Homo sapiens: one gene and its partners. The protein of the gene in region 1 purifies or fractionates together with the protein of each later gene. This does not show direct contact. Each region holds a gene or a part of one and is shown on either strand. Other genes may lie near its edges. The genes, in order: RUNX3, RCBTB2, ZBTB17 and RBPJ.

The links.
Region 2: the proteins of RUNX3 (region 1) and RCBTB2 purify together in Homo sapiens (affinity purification with mass spectrometry; one large-scale study listed by BioGRID and IntAct). This does not show direct contact.
Region 3: the proteins of RUNX3 (region 1) and ZBTB17 purify together in Homo sapiens (affinity purification with western blotting, with the first as the bait; one study listed by BioGRID). This does not show direct contact.
Region 4: the proteins of RUNX3 (region 1) and RBPJ purify together in Homo sapiens (affinity purification with western blotting; one study listed by BioGRID). This does not show direct contact.

The regions. Positions count from the first base shown.
Region 1 is NC_000001.11:24,902,505-24,906,276, forward strand, and holds part of RUNX3 (runt-related transcription factor 3), read right to left. Parts: intron 163-3,772; coding exon 1-162. UniProt on the Homo sapiens protein: Forms the heterodimeric complex core-binding factor (CBF) with CBFB.
Region 2 is NC_000013.11:48,522,856-48,526,627, reverse strand, and holds part of RCBTB2 (RCC1 and BTB domain-containing protein 2), read left to right. Parts: intron 1-1,870; 5' UTR 1,871-1,969; intron 1,970-3,772.
Region 3 is NC_000001.11:15,973,125-15,977,619, reverse strand, and holds the start of ZBTB17 (zinc finger and BTB domain-containing protein 17), read left to right. Parts: upstream 1-1,518; 5' UTR 1,519-1,637; intron 1,638-4,494; 5' UTR 4,495-4,495. UniProt on the Homo sapiens protein: Transcription factor that can function as an activator or repressor depending on its binding partners, and by targeting negative regulators of cell cycle progression.
Region 4 is NC_000004.12:26,425,325-26,429,096, forward strand, and holds part of RBPJ (recombining binding protein suppressor of hairless), read left to right. Parts: intron 1-3,395; coding exon 3,396-3,536; intron 3,537-3,772. UniProt on the Homo sapiens protein: Transcriptional regulator that plays a central role in Notch signaling, a signaling pathway involved in cell-cell communication that regulates a broad spectrum of cell-fate determinations.

The DNA of each region.
Region 1 (3,772 bases):
TGCTCGTGCCCGAGGGCGTGGCGCTGTAGGGGAAGGCAGCTGACATGGCCCCGGGATAATGCATCCTGGGGTCTGGGAAGCGGCTCTCCGTGAGGGTTGGCAGCGTGGGGAAGGAGCGGTCAAACTGGCGGGGGTCGGAGAATGGGTTCAGTTCCGAGGTGCCTGGAGGACAGCAGGGAAGAGGTCAGTTCCAGCTCGAGACAACCCCAGGAGGGCTTCCTGAAGAATGACCTTGGGCTCTGGTTCCCAAGGCCCATCTGGGGGACCCCTAGTTCTAGACCTGGCTCTCCTCTTCCTGCCCTAGGCTGCCCGGGGCCTCCCCCGCCAGGACTCCGAACACAGACCTGCCGGGAAGCTGGTTGGAGCGTGCCCCGGGCCAAGAGGGGCCATGGGAGCCCCCCCACAGCAGCAACAGAACAGAGGAGGGGGTCTATTCTTCTTTTTAAATCCTCCTTCCCAGCCTCGCAGAGGAGAGGCCTAGGATGCGGTGGTGGGGCTGAGGGCAGAGTCAGCTCAGGCCTCCCAGCAGCCCTGCCCAGGCAGGTTCCTCTCCCCACCGGCCCATGTTAACAGCTGGGAAGGCCGTGGATGTGTAAAGGGCTCCAATGACCGTGTGAGACTGGGAGTTGGAACCCGCTTTTGAAGACAAGAAAATGGAGGCAGAGAGAGAGCAAGACTGAGTCTCTGTGGCAGAGAAAGGACTGGTTCTCATCACAAGGCCTCTGCTGGGGACACACGTGCCTCTCCTGCCCAGGTGCAGCACGCGGAGGTTCTGTGCGCTCACACCTGGGTTGTGGGCACTGAGTTCACAGGAGCTCTGGCCTCCACCTCACCCTGGGCCTGTGTCTCTGGAGCCGACTCGTGGCCACACAGTGACTGGATGCCACCCTAACCTGCCTTGGCAGCAAAGTGAGACAGCAGTCAGACAAACTTGGGGACCCAGACCCCAACCTGGTCACAGTGTCCAGCCCAGACTCTGCCCCTGCTCCCCCAGGAATGTGGCTTCTCAATGGGCTCCAAGGCAAGGGTGTTCCATCCTCTGTCCCCAACTTTTGTCATCACAGACCCCCAAAACCTCAGCATTCAAAGGGGCTCAGGGATTGAGTCTAACACCCTTGATGGGGAAACTGAGGCCCAGACAGGGTGAGGCACTTCCCTCAGGGTCACACAGCACATTGGACCTGGCACACAATCCTAGGGCCTCTGGTCCTGAGCCCCAACACGTACTTGAGAGGGAGCTGTCCCGTCTTTGAGGCAGCACAGGATCAAGGCTTACTGTGTGGCTTCTGGAGCCGGACAGTTATCCTGGTTTGGACACTTACTAGCTTTGTGTCCTTGGGCAAGTCACTTAACCTCTCTGCGCATCAGTTTCCCCATATAAAACATGAGACGATAACAGTTCATCAGGATTCAGTTAATTCACATCGAGTACTTAGAATGGCACTGGGCACAGAGCAGGGGTCCATGAGGCTTTGCAAGGCCACTGTGGCTGTGGTGTCTCTTACTCTGGGTACCCAGGAGAACTGGCTCATTCAGGGCCCTGCCAAGTTGAGGCCCTGGTGCAGGGCCTCCCTTCTACTCTGGCAGCCGGGGGAGGTGGATGAGCCCCCAGCAGTGGTCCAGAGGTGCAGTCTGTCCAGCCCAGCAACCCCTCTGTGTCACCCACCAAAGGATAAGGGCCGGTGCTAGCCGGAGTGGGCTCTGCCTGCCACGCCGAGGCTTGGCTGAGGACGGAGAGCTATGAGCCTGAGGTGTGTGTGACTTCGGCTGGGACTTGGAACTTCTCGGGGCTTTGGGGTCTTCCCAAGTCAGCTGGGGTATGTTTCCCTCAGCAGCGTACTCTGGCCCTGGGCGTGGATCCGAACGGAGTGATGCTCCTGGCTTAAGGTAAGAAGATGTGGGGACAGCAGTCTGGGTGGCGGGGGCCTTCTGGGACATCTGGGATGTTCCCTAGTAGGTCACTTGGCTGTCCCGGCCCCTTGAGGCCGAGAGCCTCCGAGGCACCTGGCTGCCAGTTTTCATCTGGGGAGCCCCTCGGGGGGAGAGGTCCTGTTGCAGGTGCTGGGCACGTCAGCACAGCTGAGATGGGTGGGGTGGAAGTGGGTGCTGGCCGCCTGATGGGAACCCCATTCTCAAGACGAAGGAAACAAATGGGGACCGCAGGATACAACGGCAGGACTGTGCCCCTCAGAGCTCACGCGGGCTGCAGGGCGCTGGGCTGGGCCTCCCTGGACCTGCCACCATCCCCTCCAGCCTCTTTCCTCAGGGCCACCACCCCTCCTCCGGGGTGGTGGGGGAAGTACCTGCCCTCAGCACTCCCTCAGACCCCCCAGCAGCTTCCTTGGAGCTCCTGTACCCCCACCCTGCGGCCTCGCAGCCCCAGGAAACCCGAGCTGCCCGGGGCACTGTCGAGTGGCCAATCCCAACAGTGGAAAGAAATGTTTATTTTCTTCTCCAGATTGTCCGGGCTGCTGCATGGTGGCTGAATGAGCCCTTTCAGCTGTGAGAAGCCCCCATTGTGGGCGGCTGCGGCTGGGGGCTGGGGCTGGGGTATGGGAGGTGCTGGGGTCTCTGCACTGCTTGCCAGTGACCAATATTGGAGGGTCAAAGCACTTAACAGGCACCGAGGGAAGTGGTGGTGGGGTGTCCCAAGGGGGATCCCCAGGAGGGAGTCCGAGGGCAGAGGGAGGAGGGCCTGTGAGAGTGACTTCCCAAGCCTAGGTCTGCCAGCAACCCCTCTTTGTCAGGGACCTCCTTCTCCCCACTTCACAGATGAGAAAACTGAGGCTGAGTTTAAGTGACTTGTCTAAGATCATACAGCCAATGCCTGGCAGAGCCTGAATTCCTAGCCTGGTCCAGCTGACTGCAGAGTTCATGCTCGCCCTGTCCTGGTCATCCGAGGCCCTTTCTCTCACCCAAAGGGGATGGGCCTGAGGATGGAGATGCCTGGCTGCCTGTGGCCCAGTGCTGTGGGGGGCTAGCGAGGGACTGGGCCAGGCCTCAGGAGGGAGCAGGCAGAGAAGCAGAAGTCAGCCACTGCCCCACACAGGCTGGGCTCCTTTCCTCCCAGCCCAGGATGGAAGCAGCAGCTGTGCCTGCCGTGGGGCCAGGCATTGATTCCCAAGCTGTGCCCACCCAGCAGTGGATGGGCAGATGTGGGCTCTCCTTCCATGGGGGCTGGTGGACAGGAAGCCACTGTTCACCCCACCTCCTGGATTCTGGCTCCCCCGCTGAGCCCCGATCCCCTGGCCTGGCTCTGTCCATGGCAGAGAAAGGCTGGCTCTCAGGCTACTGCACCTCGACAGATGCTGGCCCATGGGTAGCAGAAGCAGAGGCAGCTACGCGGCAGGGGTGGGCGTGAGCACAGCGTGCAGGGCTCCTTCCGCTACCTCTTGAGAGCAGACCTCCAACTCCTGGGCTCGAGAGCTGAGAGTCTCAAATGCACTAGCTCCTGGGCTCAGAGAGGCTGGGCCTGGGGCTTCTCCCAACCTTGGCGTCTCAGCAGGACCAAGGCCAAAAGTCCTGAGCCCAGGCCAGAAGGGGAGGGGTCCTCTCTTCACACTGAAGGCCTGCATCCAGCCCCTGGCTGCAGCACTATGCCTGGAACAATGTCAGTAGAGAGACCCAGTCGGCCCCCACCTCAGCGTGGCACCGGAAAAGGGGGTGGGGCAGGCAGACCGGTTGGCAGCCCTGTTCCAGGCCCCTTTATCTGTCCCCTCAGAAGTACAGAAAGTTCTTGGGAGCAGGTACTGTGGAGACTGTGGACCTGGTC
Region 2 (3,772 bases), on another chromosome or scaffold:
TTATTTTCTTAGAGACAGAGTCTTGCTCTGTTGCTTAGGCTAATGTGCAGTGGTGCGATCATAGCTCATTAAAAAAATTATTTATTTTTTATTTTTTGAGATAAGATCTTTGTCACCCGGGCTGAGTGCAGTGGTGTGATCATGGTTCACCGCAGCCTCCACATCCTGGGTTCAAGCGATCCACCTATCTTAGCCTCCCAAGTAGCTGGGACTACAGGCGTGTACTACCACGTGTAGCTAATTTTTAAGTTTTCTGTAGAGACGGTGTCTTCCTATGTTGCCCAGGCTAGTCTCAAACTTTTGGGGGCCTCAAGCGATCCTCAAAGTGCTGGGATTACAGGTGTGAGCCACCATGCCTGGCCTTCCTAGGGTATTGATTCAATTTTATTTTACAGATGGCTAAAGAAATTATAGTTTATGAGTTTTCATTACCAAACGTTTATTGAATTTCCATGTCCTTGGTAAAGGCAAAATTAGAATGATAGCATTCTCATTTTAAGAGTTTATTTTCTTTAACATTGGGTAACCTTAATCTCTCCATCCTGAGATGATTAATTTAAGCTTAAAATCTTGAAAACCATCTTGTCAGATGGAAAAGCTGTAGCATACCAATTCATTGACAGAGTTACATGGGACCTTTTATCTTTGGTATTCCCTCCACCAAAACTTCCCCACGAAAAAATTCCCATCAAAGTCTAGCCATGCATATGTTGGTATCCATAACACATTAAAATAGTACTGTCTTCTGCATGTTTTAAAATGTTATCAAATATCAAATGTTATCAAATGATACCATATGTATCATTTTGTGACTTAGTGATTTTGGTGAACATTGTTTTGTAGATATACCTGTTTTGATTCTAGATAATTTATTTTAATAGCTATATAGTATGCATATGCCACAGTTTATTGGTTTTGTTGATCAATTTGTTCTTTCTTGCTTTTTGCTATTGGGAATATTTGTGTGTATGCTCTAGAGTTTATCTAGGGCAGTGTTGCTAAAATTGCAGGACTTGTTAGTGATCTGGAAATTAGTGGGCTGAGATCAGCATTTTCTTTTAAAATGAAATTGAACAAGATAAAATAGGATAGAGTAGGGTAGAATAAAATAGCATAAAGTAGAAAAATGGAAAAGATATCAAGCATCTCATGTAGGAGGAGTAAGAATTATTTTGTGAAATTTCAGTTATATATACATATATAACTGAATATATATATATATATATATATATATATATATATATATATATATATCATGAATCCTTTGCTCACTTTTGAATTGTGTCGTTTGTTTTATTCTTACTGATTTGCAGGCATTCTTTATATATTTTGTGTATGGATCCTTTCCAAGCTGTCCATTATGCATGTTACAAATATCTTCCCCCATTCTGTGGCATATTTTTCCTTTTGTTCAAGTTTACTGCTCTTTTCTTTGTGTTTTATGCTTTCCTGTCTTATGTATGAAATCTTTAACTGCTCTGAGGTCATAAATATATTTCTATACTTCTAAAAGTTTGAAAGTTTTGCTTTTTTTTACATTTCCACATGGATTCTCTTTTATTTTCCATATGGAAATACTATAGATTAAATTCTCCTTAGTGTGCATTTTTTCATGTGTTTCAGTGTCCAAATTGTTGAAACCCTCTCCTGAAGCTTATAAAGTATGATATTCTAAAGTTACATTTTATAACTTTAGTATTTTTATAATAGAGCATCTCTGCTGCTGACTTTTTAATAGTAGATAGCACAGATACAATTTTTAAGCTGTATTTTTCTCAGATAAAGAATGGATTGTTAAATGTGCAAGACAGTATATTCTTTTCCTTCTGTTTTTCTCTAATAGAATTTATTTGTGTATTTATATTTCCAGTCACATTAACTTTGCTCTAGAAGACAACTTTACAAGGATCTAAAAGGAACAGGATTAAAGATGACTGAATACTGGGTTCCAGAAATTTAAAACAATCAGGTACAAAAGTTTTTGGAGGGAATGCTCCCAGCCAGTCAGTATAAAATAGAACTGTTGAGAATGTACACAAGAAAAACTTAAAGTATCTAGCCCTGAAATACAGTGGAGGGTCCCAAAACAAGGGCTTTGGAATAGTCCTGGTTCAAATACTGGCTCTGACACTGATTGGTTGGTGACTATTGGTCACGTTACTGAAATGTGTGAATAAAATGGAGGCAATGATTAACCTGTTTCATTTGGATATTATAAAGATTAAATAAGGTGAGGCACTTAGTGCCTGGCACAGAATAACTTTATTTTTACTGTTGTTATTGCTGTTGTTATTTAGAATACATTTTATCACATCATGGATATGGCTTTCTGTATGTATATTGTGAATTGTTATTTTAAGTATATATATCAACATATTGTTAATAGCCTGGTGAAATCACATGGATAACAGGGTAAGGTAATCTCCACGTGTAGTGCACAAACTATACATGCAAATTGGGGATGATAGTTTTCTTTATTATGTATGCATCACATTGAAATAATGTAAAAAAAAAAGCCAACCATCTCCCACAATGCTAAAAAATTCAAAACACTTTTTAATAGTATTATACAATAGTAATTAATCTTGATTTATTTTTAAATCTTGAAGGACTTTCTGATTGACAAATATGAAATTATGTTAATCTTACATTTCATTCAATTTGAATCCTGCATGTCATTTCTTTGAATGTGGTAATTTCCATGACATACATACAATTATGTCTTAACCTGATGTCAGATAAACAGAATGGCCTGTTTTCCTACCATTCTAATTTTAAAGAGTTTAATTTTACTTGAAATTGATAAAAGACACTGAAAAGAGGTTATTTCCTACTCAAAAGCCCAGGATCGGTTTTTCATGATTTTAGCACATTAGGAAGATTTCCCTTCTGCTAGGAACGAAAGGGGGCCTAGGGTAGTGCAGTGAGGGGCAGTCACATCTCTACTTGGTCCCTTCTTTTTTCTCTTCTCTCCCTCTTTCTTCTCCTCTCCTTTTATTTTTTATTCCAGTAAACTTGGGGCAAATATGGAAAAAGTGTTTCCTGATAGGGTGAGGCAGAAGGAGAGGGAACTTTGGTTACAGGCCAGTTCCAGTATACAAAAAGCTGGGTTCTAAGGATGCTTTGTATGAATACGTTGCGTTTTACTCTGAGCCATGGGCTGTGGGTTATAGCAATGAAGGAATCGTCTGCCCTTTTGAAGAACTTACCAATTAATAGAGAAGGTACATCATACAAGAATAACTGTCATATGAGGCAGAATTTGAAAAATGCCTTCAATGTAGTTAAAAACAAAACAAAAAGTGCTGTGGAAATACAGAGAAGAGGTCCCAGCCCATTTGGGTAATCAGGATCCACATTGATGTAAATCTCAGTGGCAGTCATGCTGGGTCTTAGAGAAAATTAGGATTTTAACAGATCTGCTAAGATGCCATAGATAATATGTAGTAAGTATTAATTAAAATGACAGAATATCTTTCCATATTGTCAATCAGATCGGTTTATAAATTTTTAAGTGAGAAACTTCTAAGTAATCTTCTAAAAAGCAAGCATATCTTTTTTACTTGTTTCCAAATGTTAGAAAGTAATACTTTGCTATTAATTTTCATAATTTTAAGTTATAATAATTCTGAATAAATTATGATTTCTCGTATTCTGAGAGATCTTTTTATAGCTGAGGAAAAAAATTACTAATATCCTCAAGGGCATAGAAAACATTGATAAGGAACACTGTTTAGACTTGGCTGTATTTTGATTATTGTTTTTATCTGTC
Region 3 (4,495 bases), 8.9 Mb from region 1:
TACACCTTGGGTAGAATGTACACTGTTCAGGTCATGGGTCCCCCAAAATCACAGAAATCATCACTAAAGAACTTATCCATGTAACCAAACACCATGTGTTCCCCAAAAACTACTGAAATAAAAATTAAAAATATAGTTAAAAAGAACGGGTGAAGTTAGCCAGTTGTGGGTGCACATGCCTGTAGTCTCAGCTACTGGGGAGGTTGAAATGGGATGCTTAAGCCTAGGGGTTTCAGTCCAGCCGGGCAACATAGCGAGACCCCATCTAAAAAAAAAAAAAAGAAAGAAAAGAAAGACGGCCGGGCACGGCGGCTCACGCCTGTAATCCCAGCACTTTGGGAGGCTGAGGCAGGTGGATCACGAGGTCAGAAGATCGAGACCATCCTGGCTAACATGGTGAAACCCCGTCTCTACTAAAAATACAAAAAATTAGCCAGGTGTTGTGGCGGGCGCCTGTAGTCCCAGCTACTCTGGAGGCTGAGACAGGAGAATGGCGTGAACCCGGGAGGCGGAGCTTGCAGTGAACCGAGACAGCGCCACTGCACTCCAGCCTGGAAGACAGAGTGAGACTCTGTCTCCAAAAAAAAAAAAAAAACCTAAAGACAAGAAGGGGTGAAGTCAACTGCTGGGCTTTTTTGTTTCTCTAGCCATTGTGAAGACAGGAGTGAGTTGCCAGATTGGCATATGTTGCATCCCACTGAAGGCTAGTGGACATGAATCTCTAGGGAACAGTCTCCCCACTGCATACTTTCTTCAGCTGTGCTTGGCTGTTTGGGAGCTAACAAAGAGAAAAGGTGCATTTGGATTCACACAGCGTTGGTATTCTTACCAAATCCATGTGACAAAAAGGCAAGGGGGCAAAAGAGCTTACAGTAGTGGCAAGAGTGTTGTTAAAATTATAGATTATGGAAAATATGCAGGCCTAGAAGTAAACAAAGGAGAAAGCCCTCAGACTGTGAGAAAGTGGAGAAGTCAGTGGCCTAGAGCTACCAAAAAGGTAGAAGAGGGGCCACGGAGGGGCCATGCAAGTCTGCAGACACTTTTGTTTTCAGACACCTTTATTCACGTCCAAGACAATCAGGGAAGGGGATAATGTTCGGTTTAGAAGGTAGAAAAACACAACTGGGATCTGCAGCTTTGAAGCCACAAGTAGATTCATATCTCCGGTCCACCACTTACAAGATATGTGACCATGGACATTGATTTACACTTTTTGAGTCTGTTTTCCCTTTTTTAAAATTAGGAGAATAATACTATCTTATAATTGGTGTGAGGATTTAAAGAGATAATGCATGTAAAGCGCTTAACACAGTGCCTGGCACACAGTAAGAGCTGAACACATGATGTTACTGTTATATTTGGAAGAGAAACCAAGGCAGGGGTACAATGAGGACAACTCTGAGCGCCGAAGTACTGTAAGGTGGAACTTTTGGATAGCTAGGCGCATGCGTCTGTCTATGGGCGCTCTCCTAGCGAGGACGCTGCGCATGCGCCGGAAGTTGCAGCCGGGAAGCCTGCGAGGTCGGTTCCGCCCGACTCTAACATGGCGGCGCCCTTTGTCTGCTCTGGAGTGCCGTCCCCGGCCTTCTCGCGGCCGTGATGCACCTCCCTCTGCGGTGGGGTCCGGGACATGGCAGGTGAGTGTCAACAATCGCCCGGGGCCGGGGAAGTCCCGGGAGCCGGGGCGGAGGCGGCGGAGGATGGGGCGCGGTGGGACGCCGGTGACGGTTGTGTGGGGGAGGGGAGGGAAGTGGAATGGGACGCCAACCGGGGCTGAGGGGACACCGCTGGGCGGGAGATTGTGGGGTGGCGGGGCGGGGGGCGTCGCCGGGCGTGCTGGCGGGGAGTGGGCGGCCAGGCGACCGCCCGGGCGAGGGGGCGCGTGTCACCTCCCGGGCTGGATGACACCCCAGCTGGTAGCATCTCCGCCCCCGCCGCACGGCTGTCACCGCCCCTTGACCCCGCGCGCTGTCGAGGGTGGGCGTTCTGCGGCCGCGAGGGAGCGCAGTGCCGGGGCAGCTCCTGTCGGCCGGCCGGGGCGGGAGGGAGCGGGGCTGCCCGGGCCTAGGAGGAGCTGACAGAGGAGGCCGACGCTGTCCCTGTATAAAAGCATTTCATTCATTCATTCGTACTGCGGACGGTGGTTCAGCACCTGATAGATGGTGAAGCTAGAGCGAGTGATGCGGGCGGACTCGATCCTCCAGGATCCTCGATCCTGGAGTTAGGAGTGTGAACCGTGGAGCCCAGCAGCGGGGTTTGAATCCCCATTCCCTGCTGTGACCTTAGGCACTTTTGGCTTTTTCTCTCTGCCTGGGTTTATTCATCCTTTAAGCAGAGATGATAATAAAATCAGCCTCCTAAGATTGTAATAAAGGGGAAATGAGGCTCCTAGAACACTTATGGGTACAAAGTAAATGCTGTGTGTTTGTTGCTGTTATTAATTGTATCACCATTGTCACCCAGAGCTCAGAGACCCATGTGGGAGACATACAGGTAAATCAGCAATTCTGATACTGCTGCGAGGGCAGAAAGCCCTCCTTCCTCTGAAGCACGGAGTAGAGACACATCACTCAGCCTAGGGGGAATCCCGGGAGGCTTCTGTCCCCCAGAAAGCTAAGATCTAAGGGAAGCTCAGCGGAGTGAGGCAGGAAAACGGGTATTCCCAGTTAAGGGTGTAGTTTGTGAGAAAACTCATCTTCGTAGAGAGAGGAGAGAGAGATCAGGCTAAATAAAGAAGCAGACTGGGCCGGGCTCGTTGTCTCACGCTTGTAATCTCAGCACTTTGGGAGGCCCAGGCGGGCAGATCACTTGAGGTCAGGAGTTCGAGACCAGCCTGGCCAATATGGTGAAACCCCCGTCTCTACTAAAAATACAAAAATTAGCCGGTCGTGCTTGCGCGCGCCTGTAGTCCCAGCTGCTCAGGAGGCTGAGGTATGAGAATCGCTCGAACGCAGGAGGCGGAGGTTGCAGTGAGCCGAAACGGCGCCACTGCACTCCAGCCTGGGCGACAGAGCGAGATTCCGTCTCAAAAAAGAAAAAAAAAAAAAGCAGCAGCAAGCTGTGGTCTGGTCTTAGGGGACGTTGTAAACCTAGTTAAGGACTTTAAACTTTAGGTTAATGGGAAGCCATTTAAGAATCAGATCTGTGGCCAGGTGCGGTGGCTTACTCTGTAATTCTAGCACTTTGGGAGGCCAACGTGGGATGATCATTTGAGCCCAGGAGTTTGAGACAAGCCTGGGCAACATGGCAAGACCCCATCTTTATTAAAAGAAAAAAAAAAAAAAAGGAAAAAAAAAATAGCCGGGCATGGTGGAGTACACCTCTGGTGGTCCCAGCTTCTTGGAAGGCTGAGGTGGGAGGATTCTTTTATTTCCAGCCTGAAATAAAAGAATCAGGTTTTTTTTGTTTTTGTTTTTGTTTTTTTTTTTTGAGACTACGTCTTGCTCTGTCACCCAGGCTGGAGTGCAGTGGCAGCATAATCATAGTTCACTGCAGCCTTGATCTGAACTCAAGTGATCCTTCTGCCTCAGCCTCCCAACTAGCTGGGACTACAGGCGTGCACCATAACACCTGGCTAATTTTTTAAATTTTTAGTAGAGATGGGGTCTCACTATGTTGCCCAGACTGGTCTCGAACTCTTGGCCTCAAATGATCCTCCCGCCTCAGCCTCCCAAAGTACTGGGATTATAGGCATGTGCAACCATGCCTGGCCACGAATCAGATTTGTGGATTAGGAAGATCACTCTGGCTAAGTGAAGAATGTATCAAAGGGAGTGGGCCTGTAGGCCAATTAAGAGCCTGCTAGAATAATCCAAGTGAGAAATAAAGGTGTGAGTTAAAGGCAGAGAGTGAGGAGAGATGGTTTTAGCGATAGAATTGACACAATTTGGTGATTAGTTTGATGAGAGTTAGGGGCAGGGAGGAGTCAGGATCACCCCAGTTTTTGACTGATGGGTGTTGGATGCTGCTCCATGTGATAGGGAGCAGTACGGGGAGCAGATCTGGGGGAGGGCAGATATGTTTAGTTTTGAACATGTTGGAGTTGGATGCCTGTAAAACATTCAAGTGCACCTGTTCAGCTAGTAGTTATCACCATCAAAGGTCACTGAAGTCATGGGAGGGGATGAGCTCACCTAGGGTAGGGTATGCAATGAGAAACAAAGTGTCCAGGATATCCCAGAGCAGTGCCAATGCTGCAGTAATGCTTGGATACAAACCTTGTCGTTTTTCCTTCTTAACATTGTGTCCTGTCTCTTATTGAGCTGGAGTTCTTGAGAGCAGGGCCTGAGGCTGAGTCTGTGCATCTTTGTGTCCCAGTGTCAGCATGCTATCTGGCACAGAGCAGGCCATTTATTCAGCACTTCCTTGGGCCAGGCTCTGTGCTAAGCACTCTGTATTTGTCTATGTTTGATGGATGCATGAAAAGGCAGCTCTGAGGGAGCAGGTACCCTTTAGGTTCTCATCAGATTTTCCACTTGTGTGTCATTGATTCAGG
Region 4 (3,772 bases), on another chromosome or scaffold:
CCTGCAATCCCAGCACTTCAACAGGTGAAGGCAGGAGAAGGAGAAGTGACTAGCCCTGGCATCACTTGAGCTCAGGAGTTCGAGACTAGTCCTGGCAACATGGTCAGACCGTCTTTACCACTGACCCCGCCCCCCCAAAAAAAAAATTAGCCAGGCATGGTGGTGCACACCTGTAGTCTCAAGCTTAAGTGGGAGGATCACTTGAGCTCGGGAGGTCAAGGCTGCAATGAGCGGTGATCGTACCACTGGACTTTAGCCTGGGCAACAGAATGAGATCCTATCTCAACAACCACAGAAAAGGAGATCTTGAAATTGTAAAAACTACTTTTGTTAGTAAAATGAAAACAAAAGTCCTCTATAGTGCCACCACCCTCCCAATTTTCCCTCTCCTTTTCTCAAACAATATAATTTACTTATATTCAAGATGAAGGGGATTTATGAGTAAGTTTGATTCAAGGTCAGACTGAAGAGGTTGGGTGAGTAGAAGAACATTTAGTATTAATGTTCCTAAACATGCCTCCTATTTATCTTTTTGGTGCAATATTCCACTGGCTTATATTTTCTGGGGTCATTTCAGCAGAGGCTGGTTTGATCTACAGTTTTCTAAGCCAGTGATTCATTTCTTTGTTACTGTTTTTTTTTTTTACCCTCTGTCATGATTGTACAAGGTGATTTTATTTCCCATGTCAATGCAATAAGCTAGAAGACATGAAGTATAGTAATAGTAATCTGTAAAGCTTTGCAGCTGAGACAAATTATAATAAAAAGGGTAACGTTAGGGAATGAAGGGCATGAAAAACAGAGCAGGAGACAGAAGCAAGCAAAAAATCTGAATCAGCATTTATTCATTTTTTTTCTCTTCTCATTCATTTCCTCTGTTCCAAGGATGATGTTCATTTGCTTTGGTGTTAAATGCTTGTACTGCAGAAGCACAACTTAGGAGGATGATTCTGATCACCAATAGTTTATAATACAAACCACTTAGAAGACAGACCCAAATTTAAAACAATGTTTTCATTTACAGTTGTTTGTAAAGTACCAGTAGCCTGCCTTGCTTGAAAGTCATTAATTGAGGTTTTTACACTCAAAACTGTATGGCTTTATATAAAAATGTTGCAATGAAAAATTAACTTATTAGAAAAAGTTGCAGTACCATTATTAAGACGCTGATACATAAATCTTTCCAGGGGTTTCATGACAGGAATTCTGACATGCAAAGTCGAGTGCCTCTCGTCATTGAGTTTACATTTTGATAGAGTGATAAGCCAAATACCCATGTAAAGGATTTATGTAGTGATGAAAAAACAAAACAAGATAATAAAGGGATAGAGAATTGGAGGAGCGCTTAGAGAGGTCAGGGAAGTCTTTTTGAAGTCGCAGTATTTGAAGAGAGCCCAGAATGAAGTCAAAGAACCGGTAATTGAGTGAGGAGCATTTCAGGCAAACAGAACAAGTACAGAACTGAAGGCAGGGGATGTATGATGACTAGTAAAGAAACCAGTGGAGCTGGAGCGGAGGGAGGAGAGGTCAAGTGGCAGGAACTGAATCTGTAAGGTTAGCACTAAGCAAGACCTTGTAGGATCCCTCTCTGTATCTAGGGTAAGGACTTCATATTATCTCTGCATGTTAGAAGGCCACTGGAGGATTTTAAACGGGGCACGATGGCCTATTTTTGTTTAGAAGTATATGTGTGGCTGCTGTGTGGAGAAGAGAGCATAGCAATGCGGCCGTGGAAGCAGAGAGACAGGTGCTTGGATTGTTGTCATAATTGAGGCAAGAGTTGATGCTATCTTAGACCCAGGATCATAGTATTAAGGTGGTGAGGGGTGACTGATTTGTTGGAAAGTGGACCTGACAGAATTTGCTGGCAGATTGGATGGTTGGGTGTGAGAGAAAGCAAGGCATCAAGGGTGACTCTTAAGGTTTTTGGATTGAGTGAATGCTAGTGCCATTTATTGACCTAGATGAGTTGGGGAAGGATCAAGTTTAGGAGGAAATCCAAAAATCTGTTTTCGATATGCTAAGCTTGAGGTGCCTGTTAGACATCGTAAGTGGAAATGTTGAATAGGTAGTTAAGTGTACATACAAGTTGAATGCAGGAGAGAAGTCTGGAGATAATAAATTTGGGAGTTGTCAACCTTTAAATTTTTAAACAGTATAGATTATAAAGAGAGGAAAAGAGGGCTGAGAACTCAGCTCTGGGCATTTTAAAGGTCAGTTGGAGCAGTTGTGGTCCTGAAAGCAAAATGTGTTGAGAGCTTCTGAGAAAATGAAGTAAAATGAGGACAGAAAAGTGCCGTGAGATGCATCTGTCTGGAAATCCTTGGTGGCTTTGAAAAGCAGTTGTAGTGGCGTCTTTGAGATAAAAGGTTGGAGAGATTGCAGGAGATTGGACAGTGAGGAAGAGGCGTTTGCAGAAAAACAGGTAGTGAGAGGGAGGGACAGGAGCATGTAGTCAGTGTTTTCTTTACTTTTGATTTTGAGATGAGAGATAGTTATGTTTGTATGTTGTTGGAAGTGATCAATAGAAAAGGAAACAGAGTAAAAGTTCTGTGTCAAATTTTGCTCTTCATCATGATCATCTACTTAGCCATTACCTTCTAGGTGTCAAGTGTCATATAGGGTTTGATAGTATTATCTTTCAGATATTCATGTGTTTTGTAGACTAGTTGCGTTATAAGCTTTAGAGATCAGTTGGACAGGCAGCCAGCCCTGGGATCAGGACATATTCTGGTCCTTCAGCTACTAAACTGGTAATTTTGAGCAATTTGTCTGACCTTTCTAAGCCCATTTTGTAATCTGTAAAATGAGTTTGATTTTGTTATGTTTTTAAATACGTAAGTTTTGGATAATAGATATAAGACGTTTGCACTGACAGTAGCCTTCTAGAGATTTTTCCCTTTGATGTTGGAGTATTTGTCATTTTATGCATATTATTGGAAAATATCATTAGAACTTGCTGTTCAAAATATGGTCTGTAGGCCAGCAGCATTAACATCAACTGGGATTTTGTTAGAAATGCAGAATATCAGGCCCCACAAGAGTCCTGCTAGATCAGAACCTGTGTTTTTCACAAGAACCCCAGCTCATTTATGTGCACATTAATGTTTGAAAAACACTGATCTAGAAAACAAGTGCCTGCCTGCCTGATTTTTTTTTTTTAGATGTTCAGGGAAGAGGGTAACAGTTTCTACATTCTGACATGCTTGCAATCTAAAAGTGTTTTTTATTCCTAGTCTTTTTGTTTGTGAATGTTTTTATATATGTAGGCATAGGACAAATAACTGTGATGTATTATTATGCAGTATATAGCTTCTATGTACTTTTGATGTTTTACACAAGGAAAATCCTTTCCATGTGTGGATGACCTTTTATTTCTTAATTGTTAAATATAGATAATTAGGAAAGTTGATAAGCAGACCGCATTATTGGATGCAGATGATCCTGTGTCACAACTCCATAAATGTGCATTTTACCTTAAGGATACAGAAAGAATGTATTTGTGCCTTTCTCAAGAAAGAATAATTCAATTTCAGGTATGTTTTTAAATTACTGGTGAAATCTAAAATGTACAAACTGTGAGGTTAGCAGCTTGCAAAAATATGAAATTTTCATTTGCTGTTAATTATATACAAATACATGAAGCTATACACAGATATTTATCTCAGGTATGAGCATCCTTAACACACAATCCTCAGACATGCAAGCAATCCTTCCTCAAGGAAGAACTCAAAATTATGAAAATGTTCTCAGAGAAAACAGTTAACATCTA